Linked DNA regions of Homo sapiens. The protein of the gene in region 4 purifies or fractionates together with the protein of the main gene of each other region. This does not show direct contact. Each region holds a gene or a part of one and is shown on either strand. Other genes may lie near its edges.

The links.
Region 1: the proteins of PPEF1 (region 4) and CALU purify together in Homo sapiens (affinity purification with mass spectrometry; one large-scale study listed by BioGRID and IntAct). This does not show direct contact.
Region 2: the proteins of PPEF1 (region 4) and GLUD1 purify together in Homo sapiens (affinity purification with mass spectrometry; one large-scale study listed by BioGRID and IntAct). This does not show direct contact.
Region 3: the proteins of PPEF1 (region 4) and SEC16A purify together in Homo sapiens (affinity purification with mass spectrometry; one large-scale study listed by BioGRID and IntAct). This does not show direct contact.
Region 5: the proteins of PPEF1 (region 4) and DNAJA3 purify together in Homo sapiens (affinity purification with mass spectrometry; one large-scale study listed by BioGRID and IntAct). This does not show direct contact.
Region 6: the proteins of PPEF1 (region 4) and LRPPRC purify together in Homo sapiens (affinity purification with mass spectrometry; one large-scale study listed by BioGRID and IntAct). This does not show direct contact.
Region 7: the proteins of PPEF1 (region 4) and SLC25A3 purify together in Homo sapiens (affinity purification with mass spectrometry; one large-scale study listed by BioGRID and IntAct). This does not show direct contact.

The regions. Positions count from the first base shown.
Region 1 is NC_000007.14:128,756,359-128,759,858, reverse strand, and holds part of CALU (calumenin isoform a precursor), read right to left. Parts: intron 989-3,500; coding exon 822-988; intron 68-821; coding exon 7-67; intron 1-6. UniProt on the Homo sapiens protein: Involved in regulation of vitamin K-dependent carboxylation of multiple N-terminal glutamate residues. Seems to inhibit gamma-carboxylase GGCX. Binds 7 calcium ions with a low affinity.
Region 2 is NC_000010.11:87,060,344-87,063,843, reverse strand, and holds part of GLUD1 (glutamate dehydrogenase 1, mitochondrial isoform a precursor), read left to right. Parts: intron 1-1,008; coding exon 1,009-1,188; intron 1,189-2,791; coding exon 2,792-2,929; intron 2,930-3,018; coding exon 3,019-3,156; intron 3,157-3,500. UniProt on the Homo sapiens protein: Mitochondrial glutamate dehydrogenase that catalyzes the conversion of L-glutamate into alpha-ketoglutarate. Plays a key role in glutamine anaplerosis by producing alpha-ketoglutarate, an important intermediate in the tricarboxylic acid cycle.
Region 3 is NC_000009.12:136,462,541-136,466,040, forward strand, and holds part of SEC16A (protein transport protein Sec16A), read right to left. Parts: coding exon 3,422-3,500; intron 2,023-3,421; coding exon 1,880-2,022; intron 1,201-1,879; coding exon 1,139-1,200; intron 1,062-1,138; coding exon 923-1,061; intron 593-922; coding exon 347-592; intron 1-346. UniProt on the Homo sapiens protein: Acts as a molecular scaffold that plays a key role in the organization of the endoplasmic reticulum exit sites (ERES), also known as transitional endoplasmic reticulum (tER).
Region 4 is NC_000023.11:18,805,145-18,808,644, reverse strand, and holds part of PPEF1 (serine/threonine-protein phosphatase with EF-hands 1), read right to left. Parts: intron 2,243-3,500; coding exon 2,100-2,242; intron 1-2,099. UniProt on the Homo sapiens protein: May have a role in the recovery or adaptation response of photoreceptors. May have a role in development.
Region 5 is NC_000016.10:4,432,368-4,435,867, reverse strand, and holds part of DNAJA3 (dnaJ homolog subfamily A member 3, mitochondrial), read right to left. Parts: intron 1,485-3,500; coding exon 1,351-1,484; intron 1-1,350. UniProt on the Homo sapiens protein: Modulates apoptotic signal transduction or effector structures within the mitochondrial matrix. Affect cytochrome C release from the mitochondria and caspase 3 activation, but not caspase 8 activation.
Region 6 is NC_000002.12:43,943,990-43,947,489, reverse strand, and holds part of LRPPRC (leucine-rich PPR motif-containing protein, mitochondrial precursor), read left to right. Parts: intron 1-119; coding exon 120-233; intron 234-1,246; coding exon 1,247-1,377; intron 1,378-2,072; coding exon 2,073-2,158; intron 2,159-3,500. UniProt on the Homo sapiens protein: May play a role in RNA metabolism in both nuclei and mitochondria. In the nucleus binds to HNRPA1-associated poly(A) mRNAs and is part of nmRNP complexes at late stages of mRNA maturation which are possibly associated with nuclear mRNA export.
Region 7 is NC_000012.12:98,603,686-98,606,867, forward strand, and holds the end of SLC25A3 (solute carrier family 25 member 3 isoform b precursor), read left to right. Parts: 3' UTR 1-2,682; downstream 2,683-3,182. UniProt on the Homo sapiens protein: Inorganic ion transporter that transports phosphate or copper ions across the mitochondrial inner membrane into the matrix compartment. Mediates proton-coupled symport of phosphate ions necessary for mitochondrial oxidative phosphorylation of ADP to ATP.

The DNA.
Region 1 (3,500 bases), on a different chromosome or scaffold from region 4:
ACTTACCAATATACTCTTCTAGATCAATGAAACCATCAGCATTCTTATCTATATCTTCCATTGTTTCCTAAACAGGAAAGAATAAGAAGAGACTATTAAGTTGGTCTCTGAATTTGCCAGAAGAAAGTAAAGTATCTAGTTTAGGTAAACATTTATTATTCATTAAACACACTTGTACATGTATGTATGTATGTATGTATGTATGCATGTGTGTCTGTATGGTTAAAACCATTTCTAGCCAAGAAATGGTAAAACATGAGCAATTTCCTATGCTTCAATCTAAAATAACTGAGTCTTCCTGACAGAACACTGACACTGCTTAATGACAAACTATCCCATCAAGCCCATGATGATCTACCTGGTAGCCTTAGTCATGCTAAAGTCACACTAACAGGAGATGTGACCAGTGATTATGTGTTTAGCTATAGATAGTCTATGTTGTCAGTAACTGCCTTCTGTGAGAGTTCTTTAGTATCACTGTTATTACTCAATGTCTGACTATTGGTCATGGGATATTTTAAATAATGGGATTTCCCCCCATTCTTACAATATGAAGCTACCAATGAAATGGCAAAATACATTATATGACAGAAGGTATTATCATACTAAACAGAATGCCCAAGGCACCTTGATCAAGGTCACAGAAAAACAGTGACAGACCTTGGATTCTGAATCTGGCCAATACTTATATAGCATATACAGTGATATGCTATATAGCATATATATATATAAGATATGCTATATAAGGCTAAAGGGGAAAGACAGAATAAGCCACAAAAAGAGAAACTGAGTCCCTGTTCAGAATCCTTCATCTCACCCACCTGTACTACTATATCTTTCATGTAGTCATACTCCTCAGGGTGCAGGAAAGCTGTGAACTCCTCCTTGGTGGCAATGAGGTCTCCATCCTTGTCTGCCATTTTAAACCTCCGCTCATCTCTAACCATCATCTGTTTATAGTTAAATCCATCATCAGGATCTGGATCATCTAGAAAACAAAAATTTAGGTCAAATCTTAAAAGACTTTCAGAAAACATGAAAATGTGTGGGGTGGGAAATCAATTTCCAATAAAGATAAAACCATGCAAGGAAGAAATAATTGATGACACAGGTAAAACTGCAGCAGTACAAAGACATTTAGTTTTGGGCTACAGCTCCAGGCATCAGATCTCAGAGTCAGCTCCAAGTTCACATGGAACTCTGGCTCCTGAACTATGTAACTCACTGTTATGCTTCACTATTGGTATTAAGGCTACTAGAAGGCTTGAATTTTCTAGTTACATCTGGAAGGCAGTGGTGGCTCTCAAGTCCCATACTGCCTGAGTTTGAACTCTACCATTTTCTAGCTGTTTGGCCTGTGTCTTGGTCTCTTTTATCTGTAAAATGGAGCTAGCAATGGTGCCGGCTTCATAGGATTGTTGTAAGGTTTAAATGAGAAAATATATCTAAGTGCTTAGAACAATGCCTGGCACATAGTTGGCTTTCAACAAATGTCAGTTATTGCTACTTTTATTAAACATTAGGATCTCATTAAAAAGATAGAAATCAAAGGCCTTCTACCTCACATAATGGACACTTGGATTCAAGCAATAGAATGCCACCACTTTGAAGGTCACATTCTGTTTTTTTTCAGTCAACGCAGAAATCTACCAAGAGTGACAGGTATTGTTCATCCCCATTTACGTAAAATTCTAGAAAATGCAAACTAACTTAGAGTCACAGAAAACAGATGAGTGATTGCCTAGGGACGGGGGAATGGCGAGAATGAGAAGGATTACCAAGGGACATGAGGAAATGTTGGGGGGGTAATGGATATGCTCATTATCGTGATTGCAGTGGTGGTTTCACTGGTAAATACATACGTCAAAACTCATCAATTATGCACTTAAATACATACAGTTCACTTTATGTCAATAATAACTTGACAAAGGTATACAAAAAAAAAAACCCTTAGATTACAACCAAATTGAATTTGGAACTACCCATCTGTTATGACATCGAGCTACACAAGCAGCAGTTATCTAGTCTCTATATAAGAATATAGAAAAGTGAAATTTAGTTTTTTAAGCTGAAAAAATGTGGCGTTAACTGCAGAAAATAAAATTCTTTTTCAATCTGCGTTCCTGTATAAACCAAATTAAGATAACAGACATGAAGATATTTTAAAAAGTAAAAGACACCACATTAATGGTAAGAAATTATTGTTCCTGCAACATATTGATTACATAAAAAGGATATGACACTGCTTTTATAAAAAAGACCCACAGGGCCCCTTTAAGAATAACATCATTACTGCTGACCTTTGAGATTGTTCAGTCTTTCCATACTTTAAGCACAGTTTAAAGAAACAAAAACAAAACTACTGTACTATTTTGAGAGTTGAGCATTTTGAAGCTTCATTTTTTATTGAGTGTCAAAAATTCAGTCAGACAGCTTAACGAGTCATAAGGCTTTGGGATCCTGTGTACACACACACACACACACACACACACACACACACTCAAAGCCATAATAGGTTGAGATGGAGAACGTAAGGCAAACAAGCCTTTCTCAGATACTAAAGTGTCTCTTCTAAACAAGGTTTCAGGACTATGTAACATAAATAAGAAACATAACAAGACAACTTATACTTTAAGACTAGATTCTTACATAAGTGCTCTCCTCCCCTCCTTGGGGTAAAAGGTAAAAATGGTGACTGGACTCAAATAGCCTAATAGCAACATGCACATATATATATAAGGAGGGAAACAGGAAGATACAATTTTTTTTTTTTTTAATTTATAGTCAGGTCCTTGTTCTGTGTGGCCCAGGCTGGAGTGCAATGCAATCATAGCTCAATGCAGTCTTGGACTCTGGGGCTCAAGCAATCCTCCTGCTTCGGCCTCCCAAGTAGCTAGGACTACTGACAAGTATTACCACTCCTGGCTAATTTTTAATATTTTTTTTGTAAAGACGGGGTCTGGCTTTGTTGCCCTGGCTGGTCGCGAATTCCCGGACTCAAGCAACCTTTCTGCCTCGGCCTCCCAAAATGCTAGGATTATAGGCATAAGCCACTGTGCCTGTCCAAAACTTTATTTTTAATGACAAAACCTATTTTCCTATAGCTCTGCTTGGAATGCTGTATTTATCCTAAGCACCAGTTTTGGCCCTAGCTGGCCTGTATACAGCTTTAGGTAGGCTCTTGATCTAGTTTTGCTATAGGCAGGGTAGATCTCAGTATTTCATATTTTCCTTGTGGCAGAGACAGTGTTAACCTTTCTCTCATGGATAGCGGATTCATTGAGACAGATTTTAACTAAGAGCTATGATGATTTATACCTGAACTCCAAATTGAATCAAGAACACACAGTAACAAAAACTCCTCACTTCTCTAAGCCGACTCATGACCCCCTCAGTGCTGTCCACCCTCATGCCTCTGGGGAAAGATGCCTTATAAAGACATTGCTTCCCAGCCAGTGCTTCAGCTTATGCAGTCTCAGGCAGCAGAAATACCCATTACG
Region 2 (3,500 bases), on a different chromosome or scaffold from region 4:
AACCCCCATCTCCACTTTGCAGAGCTAACCACTGCTACCAAAGATACTCTGCTCACACAGAAGCACAGGACTCTTACCCACACATACCTTTTTAAAAATACTTCATTAAATACTTTCGTTACTCTACTCTTAGATGAACTTGAATGTCATGTTATATTAAGTATCAAGTTATATTAAAAACTTCCTTTTTCAAAAGTGGCAGAATACAACATTGAGTCTTCCCATCCAAGACAATTGTAAAGCCTCTTCCTGTCTCAGGCTCTGTTTTGGTGACATGCTCAAGTCTTATAGTAGATTTTAAGACACTCATGAATGGGATGTGTATGTACCTTGATTTAGTAGTGCTTAAATACTTGTTGAAGGAATGATAGCTTTAGGCTGAGCTAGCTCTACTTTTGTGATGTTATTTGTACTTACTTGATGTTCAATCCCTACACTCTTGTTTTTTCTGTCAGAAAATATGGTCTACTTTGCCGGGCGTGGTGGCTCACGCTTGTAATTCTAGCACTTTGGGAGGCCAAGGCAGGGAGATCACTTGAGGTCAGGAGTTTGAGACCAGCCTGACCAACATGGAGAAACCCCATCTCTACTAAAAACACAAAATTAGCCGGGCGTGGTGGCACGTGCCTGGAATACCAGCTACTCAGGAGGCTGAGGCAGGAGAATCGCTTGAACCTGGGAGGTGGAGGTTGCGATGAGCCAAGATCTCACCATTGCACTCCAGCCTGAGCAACAAGAGTGAAACTCCGTCTCAAAAACAAACAAACAAACAAACAAAAAAAAAAACAGAAAATATAGTATATTTTATTGTATTTTCTAGGAACAGAAAGCTGAAAAAGTGAGTCTTGTCTCTATTGGTAAAAGTATACCTTAAATACATTCATACACACACTCCTAATTAGCATATTTTTGATTAAATGAGAATGTGCTTTGACTTTAATTCATTATGTTCCTTCAACAGAGAAATTGGACTTGACATTTCATTCTTTCAATTACCCCCTCTTACAGGATATTAATGCACACGCCTGTGTTACTGGTAAACCCATCAGCCAAGGGGGAATCCATGGACGCATCTCTGCTACTGGCCGTGGTGTCTTCCATGGGATTGAAAATTTCATCAATGAAGCTTCTTACATGAGCATTTTAGGAATGACACCAGGGTTTGGAGATAAAACATTTGTTGTTCAGGTAAAAACAAAAACAAAAAAAGTTTCCTTAATAACTGATAGACATTAAGTAAAGTTTTCAATGTTTTTAGAATTGTAATTTTAAAATTAAGTTATCTCAAATCTCTTAAATTTTAGAGTGGTGGTTTTCAGAGTAATAGATATTTTGTTTTTTGAACCTTGGTATGATTCATGTAACTAGAACTGATTTAAGTATCTCTCAAGTACATGTGAAACTGTTACCAACTTCAACCAAACTATCACCAAATTCAACCAAAATATTGGTTAGTATTCAAACTTGAAATTATAGCTAGAAGGGCAAGTCTCTTAACATAATTTTCTAAGTTTTGTAAGTATATAGAAAGGTTTACACACTGACCCAAATTTGTTTCATGTGTTAACATGTATTTTACTTAGGAGAATCTTAATTAAGTTGAAATTACTTGAAAATAGAAGTGGTGGCTGGACACAGTGGCTCATGCCTGTATTCCCAGCACTTTGGGAGGCCAAGACGGGTGGATCACTTGAGGCCAGGAGTTCGAGACCAGCCTGGCCAACATGGTGAAACCCTGTCTCTACTAAAAGTAGAAAAATTAAGCCGGGCGTGGTGGCTCACGCCTGTAATCCCATCACTTTGGGAGGCCAAGGTGGGCAGATCACGAGGTCAAGAGATCAAGACCATCCTGGCCAACATGGTGAAACCCGGTCTCCGCTAAAAATAGGAAAATTAGCAGGGTGTGGTGGTACACGCCTGTAGTCCCAGCTACTCTGGAGGCTGACGCAGGAGAATCACTTGAACCCGGGAGGTGGAGCTTGCAGTGAGCCGAGATTGCGCCACTGCACTCCAGCCTGGGTGACAGAGCCAGACTCTGTCTCAAAAAAAAAGAAAGAAAAATTAGCTGGGCATGATGGCGGCACCTGTAATCCCAACTACTCAGGAGACTAAGGCAGGAGACTCACTTGAACCCGGGAGGCAGAGGCTGCAGTGAGCCAAGATTGTGCCATTGCACTCCAGCCTGTGTGAGAGAATGAGACTCGGTCTCAAAAAAAAAAAAAAATTGTATTTCTCCAAATTAGTGACATCCCTTTTCACAACATAGGACATCTGATCATCAAGGACTGAGGACCTGGTGGTGTACTTAACACCACTGCCATTTATTGATTGATTGAGATGGAGTCTCACCCTATTGCCCAGGCTGGAGTGCAGTCTCGGCTCACTGCAACCTCCACCTCCCAGGTTCAAGTGATTCTCCTACCTCATTCTCCCAAGTAGCTGGGATTACAGGCACGGACCCCATGCCTAATTTTTGTATTTTTAGTAGAGACGGGGTTTCACCATGTTGGCCATGGCTGATCTCGAACTCCTGACCTCAAGTGATCCACCTGCCTCAGCCTCCCAAAGTGCTGGAATTACAAGCGTGAGCCACCATGCCCGCTCATCACATTCTTAAACAGAGAATTTTATTGTTGAAGAGAAACCAGTTAGTACATTGTTTCTTTTGGCAAAAGAATTTTGAGAATTGCTTCTAAATAAACAGAGTATGGATTTACATTGGTCAAAATATGACTCTTGCTGTCTATACCAGGACTTTAATTTTTGTGTTATGGGTAATTGTTCTTCACAGGGATTTGGTAATGTGGGCCTACACTCTATGAGATATTTACATCGTTTTGGTGCTAAATGTATTGCTGTTGGTGAGTCTGATGGGAGTATATGGAATCCAGATGGTATTGACCCAAAGGAACTGGAAGACTTCAAATTGGTATTAATACATTTTTATAGCATAGACACTAAATATAAATATTTAAAACTCTGGTGCAGCTATTAATTGTGATTTTCAATCAATGGCAGCAACATGGGTCCATTCTGGGCTTCCCCAAGGCAAAGCCCTATGAAGGAAGCATCTTGGAGGCCGACTGTGACATACTGATCCCAGCTGCCAGTGAGAAGCAGTTGACCAAATCCAACGCACCCAGAGTCAAAGCCAAGGTGACAACATTATAGAAACCAGAACCAACATTATCAATGTGAATGACGTTAGGGGGGTCATAGAAGAGTCTGATTGAGTTTTCTCTTTCTTTTTAGCAGCTTTATTGGCACATACTGCACATACCATACAGTTCCCCCATTTAAGGTACATAATTTAATGGCTTTTAGCTACCGGCACAGAGTTGTGCAACCATTACCAAAACAAACGCATCTGCCTGACACTCCTGTAAAAAAAAAAAACAAGCAAACAAAAAAAAAACCTAGATAAATAGAAAAGTGAAAGGTAGTTTTATACACTTGGCAGAGAAAAATAACCTCTATTTAACTTTAACTGAAACTGTGCT
Region 3 (3,500 bases), on a different chromosome or scaffold from region 4:
TTTGTGAGAATGCCACAACTTGTGTCATGCACATTTCATCCGAGATTTGGCACACACAGCAGGGGCACGGCCTGTGCTCAACATGTGCATTTATCGAATAACTGAAAATTTAATCTGCAGGTCTCCAACACTGGAAACAGTTAGAAGGAAACCAACATTAACACCTCCAGAAGGATGGCATACAAGAGTCAGGCATTGTTCAGGAAACAGCAAGACCCGAAGCCCCACACTGCAGCGCGGATGCTCCCAAGAGGGGGCCACGTCCCTCCCTGAAGGCTGCAACCCCGCACCAGGCCCGACCCAGTGGACATGTGCAGGCGCCAGGTGCCATGATGAGGAGGCGCACCTTCTTACGGCCATACAGCAACAGCTCCCTGAACCTCTCGGTCTCTCTCTCGAGCGAGCTGGCGGCAGCCGCCGGACCACCAGTGAGGAAAGAGAGCTGGGCCTCACCAGACTCCTCCTCTTCCACCTGCTCCACTGCCTCATTCGTGAAATCAATCAGGTTTGCTTCATTGGGCGACTTCCCAGGAAGCCACACTGTTCTGTGGTCTCGTAACAGAAGCTCCGCAATGTCGGTCCCTACCACGGTCTGTTTGGGTCAACAGGAACAGGAAGGAGAACAACGGCTCTCAGGTGAGGACGCGTTGGACCACCACAGGCACAAAGCCCCACCCTGGACACAGCCAGACCCACAACTACCCGAAAGGCTGGCAAGGCTGGGCTGAAACCTCATCCCATCCCAACCGCACGTTCCCTCTCCCTCCCTACCCAGCCACTACAGTGTGCTTCCTAAGGGGGCCCTCGAGGCTCCCATAGCTGGCCACGCGGATCCCGCCCTGCTCCTTCGGGAGGCTGAGCATTCCCAAGACGAAATGAAGACCAGCAAGAAGAAACACTCTAGAAGTAGAAAGAAACATACCCCATTTTGTCTGCATAAGAGAACAATAAAATTCCAAAGAAGACTTGCAGACTCTTTGTCAATTAAGTTTTCATTCTGCAAACATTTCATAGCTTTGTTCTGTGCAAAATTAATGACATCCACCTTATGGGTGTCGTCTCTGCAGAAAGAACACACAGTGAGCAGTGATGTCTGCAAGGCCGGGCTCACAAAGAAATGCCTCAACAAGGAACATACTTGGCCAGGGGTCCCGGGAACGCCCGCATCTCCTCCTGCTCAGACGTGTGCTGCAGCAAGGCCTACGAGGAGAGGGCCGTGGGTCAGTGGCAGCCAGTGCGCAGCCACCCTGCTGGCAGGCCGGCCAACCCAGGCACGGATGCTGCCCGTGAGAGGAGAGGATGGCATGGCCCACCTGCCCCGCCCCACAGCAGGTGAAGGCTCTGTCGAGGCTGTTACATGGAACATGGCCTGTGTGGACCACAGCCATGATTTCAAACTTTATTTTAAGTAGTGAAATCCATTTTCTCTCCCCAAATACTGAGGCAGAACCCCAATACATGTGACAGAAGCCTGCAGAAGCTGCAGGAAGAGGCGCATGCCAGCCCCCGTCACCTCGGCAGCGCCGTGCACGTCCACCCCACCCGCCCCCCTCACCTGGGCAGCACCGGGCCCACCCACTGCATCTATCATTGAAAAGCACCAATAAAGCAAACATCCCCAAAACGAGGACAGAAAATGCATATACAATCAAACCACGTTGAACACCCAAGGCAGACGCTTACAATACTGACTTCTAGGAGGAAAAATATATGATCAAATAGAAGAAAAACCCTACAAATTGAAAATTCACAGGAATAAACATTTTCCAAGGACGTATGTCCAGAGACAAGGTCTGACAATTGAAGATGACAAACTGCAAAGCAGAGAGTTCCCCAGGGCAGCAGAGCAGTGACGCCACGCTTCTGCGTGTGCCATTACCTCCATGCTGTGGACCTCCACCAAGGCCGGCTGTCCTTCTGAAGGCAGATTGGGAATCACTTTGATAAGCTGACCGCCAGGGCCAAACCTGGCACAGACATGAGGCACTGAAAATTTTTCAGGAGAAGTTGGTCTTGATGAAACTGCATTTAAAATAAATTGAAAAAGAAACAATCAGCTTGTCACTGATGCTTCTGAGCCTAGATTTTCAATGTGCTCACACAGCTTAAATCACAGGTTAGATTTATCACGACAGACTTCCAACTCAAAAGTCGGTAATTGTTTAATATCATACTTAAAAGTAGAACTTCAGCATACGTCAGGAAAAGAAAAATGTCTGAATCATTAAGCATGAAAGCTGTTCCCTTGTACACTGAGAAAGCTCCCGCAACACCCTCATGAGCCGCCCTGAGGCTCCTGCCACGGTGCGTAATCCTCCCAGGCCTGGCCCACTCCCGAGCTCTTCCATTTTCACAAAATCAAATTCAGACTGCGATGACCACACAGCACCCAGCAAAAAGGACAGCAAAACACCTCAAGCAAAAAAGAAAATAAGGAGCCAGGCATAGTGGTGCATGCCTGTAATCCCAGCACTTTGAAAGGATCCAAGGCAGGAGGGCCACCTGAACCCAGGAGACAGAGACCATGACCGTGCCACTGCACTCCAGCCTGGGTGACAGAGTGAGACTCTGTCTCTTAAAAAAAAAGAAATGAAAAAATGTTAACTGAAACAATACTTTAAGAAAGTAAGGCCGGGCACAGTGACTCACACTCTAATCCAAGCATTTTGGGAGACCGAGGAGGATGGATCACTTGAGGTCAGGAGTTTGAGACCAGCCTGGCCAACATGGCAAAACCCCATCTCTACTAAAAATACAAAAATTAGCTGTGCATGGTGGCAAACACCTGTAATCTCAACTACTCAGGAGGCTGAGGCAGGAGAATCGTTTGAACCCGAGATGCAGAAGTTGCAGTGAGCCAAGATCACATCACTGCACTCCAGCCTGGGAGACAGAGTGAGACTCCATCTCAAAAAAACCAAAAAACAAACAAACAAAAAAACTCAGCCTACCATTAAATTCTGTAACTTTATATCTTTACGTATATTTCTGCAATTTGCCAAGAAAAAGCATTTGAGCATCCTGGAAGGGAACTCTGACTGACACGCGGGACAACTGCAGGAGCGGAGTCTCCAAGGGGAATGAGCAGCTCCCTCCTGCACGCCTGCTGAGCCACGGGGTCTGCGATGGGGATGTGATCAGGGGCTGCCCAGAGCCTGGATATGAGCTGTCCTCAGAGTCACACTTTAAAACGCATGTCGGGGCAGGCAGGGCAGCTCTCAGGCCTTAAACCAAACTGCAATCGAAGAGACAGCATCGGCCCGTCCTGACACACCCTGCTTCTCGGAAGGACGGATTGGGTCAGAGCCAGGCCAGGACATCACAATTCCAATCCCAGCCCTGACTCCCGTGTTCAGATGCCAGGCTGGGTGGCCGCCCCAGTGGGGTTAGCCGGTATCCCTCTGTCCTGCTGAGCACACACCTTGCTCCATGGCAGGCCAGACGGTGTCGGCAGGGTAGCCATACTCTGGGAAGCCGGGGCCACTGCTGAAATTGCTGCG
Region 4 (3,500 bases):
ATACCTGTTGGCCATTTGTATGTCTTTGGGAAAATGTCTATTCAGGTCCTTTGCCTATTTTTTAAATTGGATTACTTGGTTTTTTTTTTTTTGCTGTTGAGTCGTATGAGTTCCTTATATATAGGAATGCTAGTTATAGCATTGTTTTTAAATGCAGAATCCTGGAACCAATCTGGATGTCTATCAATTGGATAAGATTTAGTTGCTCCATAACTGTTATGGTACATGTATACTACAGAATAATATGTATGTACTAAAAAGAATGAGTTAGGTCTATCTTTACTAACTTGCGGTGATGTTCATGATAAAATTTTTAGGGGAAAAATTCAGTTGCAGAATACAGTATGCAGTGTGATTCTTTCTTTAAAAAATATACGTACGGCCGGGCGTGGTGGCTCACTACTGTAATCCCAGCACTTTGGGAAGCTGAGGCGGGCGGATCACAAGGTCAAGAGATCGAGACCATCCTAGCCAACATGGTGAAACCCCCTCTCTACTAAAAAAACAAAAATTAGCTGGGTGTGGTGGCGTGCACCTGTAGTCCCAGCTACTTGGGAGGCTGAGGCAGGAGAATTGCTTGAACCCAAGAGGCAGAGGTTGCAGTGAGCTGAGATCGCACCACTGCACTCCAGCCTGGCAACAGAGCAAGACTCCGTCTCAAAAAAAAAAAAAAAATGTACGTACAGGCTGGGCGTGGTAGCTCACACCTGTAATCTCAGCACTTTGGGAGGCCGAGGCGGGCAAATCACCTGAGGTCAGGAGTTCAATACCAGCTTGGCCAACAAGGTGAAACCCCGTCTCTACTAAAAATACAAAAATTAGCCCAGCGTGGTGGGGCATGCCCGTAGTCCCAGCTACTCGGGAGGCTGAGACAGGAGAATCACTTGAACCCAGTAGGTGGAGGTTGCAGTGAGCCAAGATCGTGCCACTGCACTCCAGCCTGGGCAACAGAGCAAGACTCCTTCTTTAAAAAAAAAAGTATGTACATTGTTTATCGTCTTTCTCTTCACACTGAGATATGTGTTTGATGAGGGGACTTCAGCCTATCTTATATTATGTATGCCTAGAATAGTATCTGACACATGGCAGGTACTCAAAGGTTTTTTTTAATTCAATGACTGAATAAATGCTTGACTATTTTTGTAAGAGCAAGAAGAGGGTGGAAGGGGCCATTCTAAACTGCCAGTTTTAGTTACCTCTGGGGAAAAGGATAATTGAGAAAGGAGAGAAGTTGTTAACAATTTCTTTATTCTTCTTTGCTTTTTTTCAGTTGTTAACAACAAACATGTTAGTTCTATAATGTAAAAAATCTTAGACCGGGCGCAGTGGCTCATGCCTGTAATCCCAGTACTTTGGGAGGTCAAGGCAGGCAGATCACATGAGGTCAGGAGTTCAAGACCAGCCTGGCCAACATGGTGAAACCCCGTCTCTACCAAAAATATAAAATGTTAGCCAGGTGTTGTGGCGGGCCCTTGTAATCTCAGCTACTCAGGAGGCTGAGGCAGGAGAACAGCTTGAACCTGGGAGGCAGAGGTTGCAGGGAGCTGAGATCACGCCACTGCACTCCAGCCTGGGCTGCAGAGCGAGACTCCGTCTCAAAAAAACAAAAAACAAATGAAAAAAAACAAACAAAAAAAAAACCAAAAAAAACACTTAGAAAGATAATGTTAAAGGGAGAAAAGGAGTATAAGCTACAAATGCCATCACATGGAGAGAGACACTCAACTATTTGTCACATACACTTCTGGATAGAGAAGAGAAAGGGGCAAGACCAGATAGAGCTGTTTGTGGGTCAGAGAAGGTTGTAGGTTGGGGGACTGAGTGGGTGTGGGGATCTTCTTTTCTTTACATTCAGTTACGTTTCTGAGGGCTGACTGCTTTATCCATCTAAAAAGATGTATGAATTTAAAATTGCTCTTTTTGGTTTCAAATATGGGTGCATTCACCACTTGGTGTCTGGAACTATTTACATTTTGTTGATACTAATGAGTAAGCTATAAATGACTCTCTTCACTCACGTGGCTGCTCTTAGTCACGTGGGACTGGTTCTAATGGGTCCGTGATACCAGTGCTCAGCACTCTCGGTATAGTATACACACCTTTGGCGAAGAGGCTGAAAGCACGTTGCTTTAGTTACTTGGTACTGGAAAAATCGAGGAGTTGTACCAGAACATAGTTTGATGTAAGCTCCTCGATTGCTGCCTTCTTCATAATAATTAGAAGCAGAAAATATAGTCACCACCTGGTTAAAGAAAAAGAGGGTCAGGTTCACGTAACATTAGTTCTCAAAAGGTCATTCAATAAGGTCAGAAATAGCTCAATTCTTAAAAAGCAAAAATCAAAGAAGGTTCATAAACCCTGCAAATCATCACAGTCTGATGTGATTTCTATGACTGCATCGGAGGAAAACAAGGCTACTACCCAGTGTCCCCAGCAGCACTAACTCCTGGCCACTCAGCCAATGTCCTCAGCGCATGGCCCTGCATTCTCGGGTACAATTTTAGTGCCAAATCTCAGAATCCTCTTTAATGTTTGATTTTGCAAATTCTTTTTCCAAGGGGATAAATCCCCTATTTTCTTGCCTTGTAATAGTTGAGCATTCAGAACAAAATTTGTCTGGTACTTCGGTTTTTTTCTTCTGCTTGGAGCTGAGTGATTTAGAGGGTTCAGGGCCCCAGAAAGTCAGTGCTTTAAGGGCAGAGGTGCAGTGGCTAGAATAAGGGACCACGACCACTGTCTTGTGAAGGAACTAGCCTTGGGCTGTGGTAGAATATGGGAGGACAATTTTTTTTTTTTTTTTTTTAAGATGGAGTCTCGCTCTCTCACCATGATGGAATGCAATGGCACGATCTCACCTCACTGCAACCTCCACCTCCTGGGTTCCAGGAATTCTCCTGCCTCAGCCTCCCGAGTAGCTGGTACTACAGGTGTGTGCCACCACGCCCAGCTAATTTTTGTATTTTTAGTAGAGACAGGGTCTTACCATGTTGACCAGGATGGTCTCGATCTCTTGACCTCGTGATCCACCTGCCTTGGCCTCCCAAAGTGCTGGGATTACAGGCATGAGCCACCGTGCCCAGCCAGGAGGACAATATTTGTGGGTGACAGGGAACCTGGTTTAGGCCCCGTTCTGTCCTGATGAGCATGTCACTTCAGACAAGCCACTGATGTTTTCTATCTATTTTCTTACTACAAAGAAACCCTAAACAATACTTGCCTTACTCATCTTGGAATGTTAGTATGAGCTGAAAATGAATTAATAAAGGTCAGAAAAACAAAGTGCTGACACAGAGGGAAATGCCACACAACTTGGTGTCCATTTTTATTTATTGCTGTTCACTATAGAAAAAGGTGCATTCCAGGCCAGGCGCGGTGGCTAATGCCTATAATCCCAGCACTTTGGGAGGCTGAGGCAGGTGGATCACCTGAGGTCAGGAGTTTGAGACCAGCCTGGCCATCATGAAACCTTGTCTCTACTAAAAGTTCAAAAATTAGCTGGA
Region 5 (3,500 bases), on a different chromosome or scaffold from region 4:
TTACCATATGACTCAGCAACTATACTCCTAAATATCCAAGAGAACTGAAAACATGTCTACACAAAAACTTACATATGAATGTCTATATAGCAGCACTGTTCATGATAGCAAAAAGTGGAAAATATCCAAATGTCCATCAAACGATGAATAAACAAAATGTGATTAATCCATGCAACAGATTATTTGACCATAAAAAGGGATGAAGTATTGACACAAACTATAACACAGATGAACCCTGAAAACATTATGTGAATGAAAGAAGCCAAGACACACAAAAGGATACATATTGTATGATTCCCTGTATATGAATATTGAGAATAGGCAAATCCAAAGAGGCAGGACGCAGATTAGCAGCTGCTAGGGACCGGGGAGAGAGGACAATGGAAGGGGAGTGCTAATGAATACAGAGTTTCTTTTCGAGGTAATGAAAATGTCCTAAAGTTGACTGTGGTGACAGGTGCACAACTCCAGTGAACTGTGCACTTATAAAAAGCTGTCAATCCTACAATGGTGCCTCCAATATTGATTTTATTTTGTTGGTCAGAGCAAACCAAGGGTCTAGGAACCAGTGGTGTAGACATCTCGTATACAACTTTACTCAGCTACCCTAACTACCCTAATAGACCCTGGGATACAATGGGAATTTCACATTTTCCAGGTTAAGAAAGGGCCAGGCGCGGTGGCTCACGCCTGTAATCCCAGCACTTTGGGAGGCTGAGGCAGGTGGATCACCTGAGGTCAGGAGTTTAAGACCAGCCTGACCAACAAAGTGAAACCGCGTCTCTACTAAAAATACAAAAAAAATTAGCCGGGTGTGGTGGCAGGTGCCTATAGTCCCAGCTACTTGGGAGGCGGACACAGGAGAACTGCTTGAACCCAGGAGGCAGAGGTTGCAGTGAGCCAAGATTGCGCCACTGCACTCCAGCCTCAGCAATGGAGTGAGACTCCATCTCAAAAAAAAAAAAAAAAAAAAAAAAAAAAGAAAGGAAAGGAAGTAATTCTAAACCTCTAAACTTTTATCTGGATGCAAAAAATAACTACCTAAAACTTAGACTAGCATATCTACTGATTCAGAAAATACAGATTAAATTTAATTATGAAAACAGCTCTAGAAAAAAAAACTTCTTAAAATCTCTGGTTTGGACTCACCTCTTTTTTCTGAAGCACCAACCTCTACAGCATTGTGCATCGAAAAACAGTCTAGCAAAGTCCAGCTTTATCACACCCTTCTATACTATCAGCTCATGAGACCTATTCATATGGGCACATACGCTGTACTGATCAGGATCACATGGGATCAACAACATTCCTACTACAATTTGGTCACCAAAACCTGACTTCCATACAGACCTGATAATAGGCTTTCTTGATCTCTTTCTGGCTGGCATTTCGAGGCACTCCTAATATCTGATAATAATCTTCTTTGGCCAAAGGGGCACTCGTGTGGAAGGAGGCAGTACAAATGAAAGGGTTATGTTTTGTTCCTAAAAAGGAAAAAACAAAGAAAATCACTCTGGGAATGTTCTCAACAAAAGAAAACTGTGAGTACATGACCCACCAGGCTATATCTGTGAAGGAACAAACAAACTGATAAGGTTTGGCTGTGTCCCCACCCAGATCTCAACTAGAATTTTAGTTCCCATAATCCCCACGTGTCATGGGAGGGACCTGATGGGAGGTAACTGAATCACAGGAGCGGTTACCTCCATGCTGGTCTCGCGATAGTAAGTTCTCATGAGATCTGATAGTTTTATGAGGGGCTCACCCTTTTGCTCATTCTTCCTGCTGCCATGTTAAGAAGGATGTGTTTGCTTCCCCTTCCGCCACGATCGCTGAGGCCTCCCCAGCCGTGCTGAACTGTGAGTTAAATAAACCTCTTTCCTTTAAAATTTACCCAGTCTTAGGTATGTCTTTATTAGCTGCATGAGAACAGACTAATACACAGGCTACAGCTTTAGGGCTGTTCCCTAATGCACTTCAATAATGGCTAAGGAAGCCACAGTATTCAATTAATATTAAACTATGTCAGAGTATTGGATGAGGCTGATTCTCCTCGCTTATACTACTGGAGTGGTCTCAGTAAACCACTAAAGGAATAATACTCCTGACTGGGAGATGATTAAAAAGGGATTCAGCTCCCCCCTCTTATGCCACATGAGCACTTACCATTTGCTAGGTATTTTCATATTTTCATATTTTTCTGTCACATTTAATGCTTAACAACTCCCCACATTCTTTTCCCTCTATCTTGCAGCCTTGGGTATCTACTTAAGGAGCAGTTCTCAAGACTGCGCTCCCTGGACCAACAGCATCATTAGACTGATGAAAACACAGATGTTCAAGCCCTACTCCAGACATTCACCAGAAACTCAGGAGGTCTCCACCCACTAGATGCCAGTAGAGAACTCCCCGTCTCCAGGCATTGCCAAATGTCCCCTGGGAAGTAAAAGTGTCCCCTGCTGAGAACCAATGACAAATCAATCTAAGAAGGTCGGGGAAGAACTTCTAGGCATCAGCTGTTAAGCTGCAGAAACTGGCTAAGCTGCCCAGGAAAGCATTTGCCACTTTCAGTGGAAAACAAATGGCGGTTACTAACTAGGATGACTTTGTACTTTGGATCTGGATTCACAGCACCTTTTTTAATAGCAAGACACCAACTGCTTAAGAAACAAGGATGTTTTAGTTCATCCACTTAACAGATAGGAAGAGCAGGTTTTTTGTTTTTTGAGATGGAGTCTCGCTCTGTCGCCCAGGCTGGAGTGCAGTGGCGCCATCCTGGCTCACTGCAAGCTCCACTTCCCGGGTTCACGCCATTCTCCTGCCTCAGCCTCCCAAGTAGCTGGGACTACGGGCGCCTGCCACCACACTCGGCTAATTTTTTCATATTTTTAGTAGAGACGGGGTTTCGCCGTGTTAGCCAGGATGGTCTCGATCTCCTGACCTCATGATCCGCCTGCCTCGACCTCCCAAAGTGCTGGGATTACCGGCGTGAGCCACCGTGCCCGGCAGGCTTTTTGTTTCTTTGTTTTTTGAGACGGAGTTTCGCTCTTCTTGCCCAGACTGGCGTGCAGTGGTGCGATTTTGGCTCACTGCAACCTCCGCCTGCTGGGTTCAAGCGACTCTCCTGCCTCAGCCTCCCAAGTAACTGGGACTACAGGCGTGTGCCACCACGCCCAGACTGGAGGTGTTTTAATAGATGAAATCTGTTTAAAAAGTGAATAAGCCGGGCCGGGTATGGTGGCTCCTGCCTGTAATCCCAGCACTTTGGGAGGCCAAGGCGGGCGGATCACCTGAGGTCAGGAGTTAGAGACCAGCCTGACCAACATGGAGAAACCCCATCTCTACTAAAAATACAAAATTAGCCGGATGTGGTGGTACATGCCTGTAATCCCAGCTAGTAAGGAGGCTGAAGCAAGAGAATCGCTTGAACCTGGGGGGCAGAGGTTGCAGTGAGCCAAGATCGCGCCATTGCACTCCAGCCTGGGCAACAGGAGTGAAAC
Region 6 (3,500 bases), on a different chromosome or scaffold from region 4:
ATAGCATTTATGACATTTAGGAAGGTAGAAAGGAAAGTCAGTTTAAAGGGAAGAGTGACAAAAGGCATACTATATTTCCTTTTTCAGGAAATTTTTCTTTTCTTTTTTCTTTTCTGTAGACTGTGCAACTTACATCATCTGAATTGGAGTCCACACTTGAAACACTAAAAGCTGAAAATCAACCTATAAGAGATGTCCTAAAGCAACTCATATTAGTGCTTTGTTCAGAAGAGGTAACATTTGTTTTAATATTTAAATATTATTAAGGCAAAAAATTCTTGGTAACAATAAGAAAAACCAAATATAATATTTATGATTTTTACAATTGATCGTTATATGTCAGGCTTGTAAAGAATGCAATTAAATGAAAGGTTAACTAATTTCAGCTACACCTTGAATGGCATGTTTTCTGGTTGCTGTAGTTTGTTTACGATAATCTGCAAAGTGAATGATAGTAACAGCTGTGATAGGTTTATCATACATGCCAAATGTCCTTTCAAGCCATGGCTCCGGTCTCTTATATCTAGATTGTCAAGCAACTGATACACGCAGTAGTCATTTGCAAGTCAAATATTACTAGGTTGTTAATGCAGGGATTGAAATTCCATTTTCCTGCTGGAAAAAAGCTCTTTCTGAGATAAAGGGTCCCTTGCCTTTTTTCAGCGGGCATCCAGCTGTACTTTGTGTTCATTTTAGTGTATGTCTGCAATTTGTGGGATATCACTAGACTATTTTTCACTTTCTAGTTCAATATAATTGAGCCATAAACTTGTAGTTTTAGGGAAAAAATATCATGACTAACTTTATGATTATAATCTGCTACTGTTAAATTCTAAAATATTTCTTCATATTACTTGGATACTAAACTAGACTGAGAAACTTTTCAATGATACATATTTCTGCATCCTGAAATTAGACTGTGATTAGGATTTGATTTGGGAATTACTTAATCTGGAAGTCTTTTTTAAATAATACCATACACAAAGCCTAAAACATCAAATTTGGCATAAATAATGGCCTATTTTATATTACAGATAACACATCTTTTAACCCCTACACGTGTAAGACTTGCCCACTTCTTAGAGGTGAATAAAAATATCAAGGGGCAGAGTCAGGTTGTTAACATGAAACCATTTATTTTTAAAGTACTATTAACTTTTTCTAAACTCTGAACAGTAAAGCTAAAAATGTGACATTTTTACCTTCACACTGATTTCTTCTTTTTCACATCTATGCTGTATTTTAGAATATGCAAAAAGCCCTTGAATTGAAAGCAAAATATGAATCCGACATGGTTACTGGTGGCTATGCAGCTTTAATAAATTTATGCTGTCGACATGATAAAGTAGAAGATGCCTTGAACTTGAAAGAAGAATTGTGAGTACCCTGGCACTGAAACAAGTTGTCAACATTTATTCTGCTCTACAGACCTTGATAGATTATCTAGATGGAATATTACTCTCTTATATAATGTCATTTTTAAAAATTCTTTTGTTGTCAGTGTTTTTGAAATTTCGTATTATACGGCTCTTTAATTAATTGTGGCTTATGTTCAGCAAGGTGTCTTTGTTTAAGTATGATAAGACATTCTAGTCCTTAGAACCAAAGGTTTTTTTCCATTGATTATATATCATCACAACAGTGGTGATGGTGGTAACTGTTTTAAGAGGCTTGATAACATTTCCCTTTCAATATTGTAGTGTAAATAAAATTCTATCCATTTCTCAGGTACCTTTGGCTTCCTATCCTGTTAGATTTTTCAAGTAAAAATGTCAAGTATTCGTGATGAAGGTTAGAATCACTTAAAGCCAAAGAGTTTCTTCATAAGTATCCTTTGCAGATGGAGTGATGCAATATATATGTAGTGTTGGGCTTTTACTTCACTAGTCACTTTGAATATAATTTCGTGTGAACTTGTATATGGCTTCAAAAAGAAATCCTAACTGAAGCGTAGAGGCCAACATTAGTTCAGGTCTTCTGATGAGCTTTTGAAAAGTGATTAAATGGATGTTGCTGTTCTTTTAGCAGTTAATTGACTTTTAAAACAATATAAATGTGGCTTTAATTTTTAGTGACCGCTTAGATTCATCTGCTGTCCTTGACACCGGCAAGTATGTAGGCCTTGTAAGAGTATTGGCAAAGCATGGCAAGCTCCAAGGTAAGCCTCAGCACATAAAGGAAATATGTGATGCAAGTATCTTGCCACTGGAATAACATGTGAATTGATATTAATGGATATCATGTCCTGCAAAGTGCTTGAACACTTTGCATAGAAATTTGCATGTGAATCCAACCAGAGCTACATGGACAGTGTAGGCCATTAGTTTTAATGGATTGGCAAGCTTGTCATTTACATTTGCACAGCTCAGTGCTTTTTGCATTTCTGCAGCTAGTTTTTATTAGCATTGCTGTTTGGATTGAGTTTGAAGATCATGACTTATGGCACAATTTGCTTATGTGCCTGCACTAATGGCTTTGTTTTTGCTTAAGAAGGTCTGAAGGCTGAACGTAAAACCTATAAACGTAAAACCTATAAACATAACCTAATATATGCGCCTGAATTTTGCAGTAGTCTTTGCCTTACTTTTTAATAACATTAACAAAATATATACTTTAAAGTTTTTATTTTAATTAAGGTTTTTATTTAATGGTTCATGGAAAAAGCATAGCTGATTACACAGCTGATTTGCATACTCAAATTTTCTCGTTGAGATAATGCTAAGCCTAATAAAATTAATTACACTTGATAATACATTCATACTATTTTCTTGTTTCTTAACTTTCTGATTTGGCTTTATTTTGAAATTTCCTTTTTAGCCTTCCTCTTTTCCTTTGATTTTCAGAAAAGATTGTTTTAATTTTATTATAGGGAAAAATGTATGGAGAAAATCATTTATTAGAACATTGAATGTTTTCCTAGGACGCCTTTCTAACTCTTTCTAAGGATTAGCCTATTTTTTTAAAATCACTTTTTGTAAAGTGGTCAAAACATTTTGTCTGTGTAATAATTAAGAACAACATTATAAAAATGCACTTATTCCATATCCTAAAATGTTTGTTTCTGCCTTCCTAATGAAGCTTAATGAATCTAATGTATTAACATGCAGTCTTTTGGAAAGCTTTCATTGGCTCTGCTTGGCTAATTAGTATCGACATAGCAAACAGGCCCTATCGGTATCAGACCATTAGTCTGGCTGTATATACAGTGTAAACACATCTTTATTATCTGGCCTCCTGACAAGCCATCTGCTGAAGAAACAATGGTGTGATTTAGCAGATGTTAGCTCTGAACGATAAAAGCATCCATTTAGGAGGATCTTACAGCTATAGGGCAGACCATACAGGGTTATGTGGTACAGAGTGGGCACATAGTCCCTATCTATAATTTGTAGTCAAAGTTGCAGGGAAATGATAAAACCATGCTATTGTGGATTTATAATTGTAGTCTCGTTTAGAAATGCAAGTAGTAATTAACTTGAAATCGGCATTATACACTAGAA
Region 7 (3,182 bases), on a different chromosome or scaffold from region 4:
GGCATTGATACAAAATACGCTGTGTTCAAGCTATGGAGCCTGCCACTGTAGTTACTAGAGTTACGGTTCAAAGCTATTTCTGAGAGAAAGCCACTTCATCCTCAAAACCCAAGAGGCCCACTTAAAGTGATGCGAATTCTCATTTCAGGTTTTTAAATTATACTAAAAGATTCTAGTAAGAAAATTTTAATATGTATGTATTGGTGTTCTTTTTACATTTCATTTAATGAAATGTCTACTGTCAATACGATAAAGCAGAACCCAGTGGAGTAAGAATACACGAAACTGCCAGGCACAGTGGGTCATGCCTGTAAACCCAGCATTCTGGGAGGCCGAGGCGGGTGGATCACCTGAGGTCGGGAGTTCAAGACCAGCCTGACCAACATGGAGAAACCCTGTCTCTACTAAAAATACAAAATTAGCTGCGGTGGTGGTGCGTGCCTGTAATCCCAGCTACTCAGGAGGCTGAGGCAGGAGAATCGCTTGAACCCGGGAGGCGGAGGTTGTGGTGAGCCAAGATTGCGCCATTGCACTCCAGCCTGGGCAACAACAGCGAAACTCTGTCTCAAAAAAAAAAAATATATATATATATATATATATATGAAGCTGATAGTTGAATTATGTTGATTCAGGGACAAGATAGCATTGCATAGTAACTTCCAGTAGGATCAAATATTTTGAGAGTGGTTAAAACGCCAAGGAATCCTGATTTTATGAAATTATGCCTTCTGATAGGTGCAACAAAATTGAACAGAAGAGTAACAGCTTAACTAAACCTCCATTGTGTGAAAGTTTTATGAAATGTTTTGACTTTTTTTTTTTTTTCCCTAGAGAACAGGGTTCTTGCTTTGTCGCCCAGGCTGGAGTACAGCCTTGAACTCCTGGGCTCAAGCGATCCTCCTGCCTCAGCCTCCCAGTTAGCTGACACAATTGGGATGTGCCACTACTTGCTCCTGTTTTTTCATAGACGGGTCCTGCTGTTGCTCAGGCTGGTCTCGGATTCCTGGCCTCAAGCAACTTTCCTGCCCCAGCTCCTAAAGCGGCCAGGGTTACAGGTAGCCGCCTTGTCTGTCCCGTTTCGACCATATTTTATTTTTGAGAAGGTCTTGCTCTGTCGCCAGACTGGAGTGCAGTGGCACGATGATAGCTCACTGCAGCCTCGATCTCCCAAGCTCAAGTGATCCTCCCACCTCAGCCTCTTGAATAACTGGGACTGCAAGTGTGGACCACCATGTCTGGCTAATGTTTTTTATTTTTAGCAGAAATGAGGTCTTGCTATGTTGCCAAGGCTAGTCTTGAACTCCTGAGCTCAAGCGAGCCTTCTGCCTTGGCCTTCCAAAGGGCTGGGATTAGAGGGCTGAGCCACCACACTTGGCCAACCATATTTTATTTTTTATATTTTTATTTTATTTGATCCTTGTTCTGAAACCATAAAGTGAGTTTAACATTTCTGGCTGGGCACAGTGGCTCATGCCTGTAATTCTAACACTTTAGGAGACCAAGGCAGGAGGATGCCTTGAGCCCAGGAGTTTGAGACCATCCTGGACAACATAATGAGAAAAGAAAATACAAAAATTAAGGGGTGTGGTGACACATGCCTGTAGTCTCAACTATTTGGGAGGCTGAGGCAGGAGGATTGCTTGAGCCCGAGAGGTTGAGGCTACAGTGAGCCATGTTTACGCCATTGCAGTCCAGCCTGGGCGACAGAGTGAAACCCTGTCTCAAAAAAAAAGTAACATTTCTATATGATTTTTGGGATCGACATGTCCATAATGTTAATGAAGCGCATAGCAGTCACTAGTAAATTAGGAGTTATACATTGCTTCTATAGCATCAGAAATTGTATATCAGGCCAGGTGCAAAAGCTCACTCCTGAAATCCAAGCACTTTGGGAGGCTGAGGTGGGCGGATTGCTTGAGGTCAGGAGTTCAAGAACAGCCTGGCCAACATGATGAAACCCCAGGTCTCTACTAAAAATACAAAAATTGGTCAGGCATGGTGGTGCATGCCTGTAATTCCAGCTACTCGGGAGGCTGAGGCAGGAGAATTGCTTGAACCCGGGAGGCAGAGGTTGCAGTGAGCCAAGATTGTGCCACTGCACTCCAGCCTGGGCGACAGAGCCAGACTGTCTGAGGAAGAAATTGTATATCAGGCTGGGCACAGTGGCTCATACCCGTAATCCCAGCACTTTGGGAGGCCCAGGCTGGGTATCACTTGAGCCCAGGAGTTGGAGACCAGCCTGGGCAACAAAGTGAGACCCCTCTCTCTACAAAAAATAAATTAGCCAGGCATGGTGGCACGTGCCTGTAATCTCAGCTACTTAGGAAGCTGAAGGAGGATCGTCTGAGCCCAGGAGTTTGAGGCTGCAATGAGCTACAATCACACCCCTGCACTCCGGCCTGGGCGACAGAGTGATAACCTGTCTAAAAAAATAAAAATAAATTGTATAATCATATTGCAATTTTCTTTGCATTACTGATGAGGAAAAATCTCAAAGTAATTGTAAAAAATCCTGGATATCACATAGTTGAGAAACAAAGTTATTTTAAACTTACAGGACTCTGTAGTTCACAGTTGAACACTGTGGCTTCCTGAAATATCAAAGAATAATGTACATTAATAAGCCAGCTACTATCGGCATCTTGTAAAAATTAAAAAATTAAACATAAATAAAAGTTCAAACTATGTGTTGAATCATTTGTCTTTTACAAGCCAGCCCTGACTTCACATTCTCAGAGGTGTTCATAGAAGTGCATGAGATGTTAACCTCACCACTGATAAGGTTTATGAATCTCCTGGTTATTAAGGTGTGACCTGACAAGTTTCCTAGAAAGCAGCTATTCCAGAGTTTTCATGTGTGTTTTTATAGACACTGAAGTGCAGTATGCAATAGTCACTTAATAAGTATTGCTACACTGAATGAAAGAGCCTTGGGGATGTGTCTCTTACACAAGATATAATTCCTACCTAATACTGTGAATAATAATTTGATGTTCAAATCAGCCAGCTTGCTTTGCAGAATCCAGTGTATTGCAAAGTTTGAAGATGGAAAATAATTCATGTGACAGGCCATATCATTATTCCAAGACCCATGATCTTAACACTAGAGGGCTATATTAGTCAAGGTTAAAACTGCTAAATCTCAAGGAAGCATTAACATCTGAAAATATGGTATACCCAAC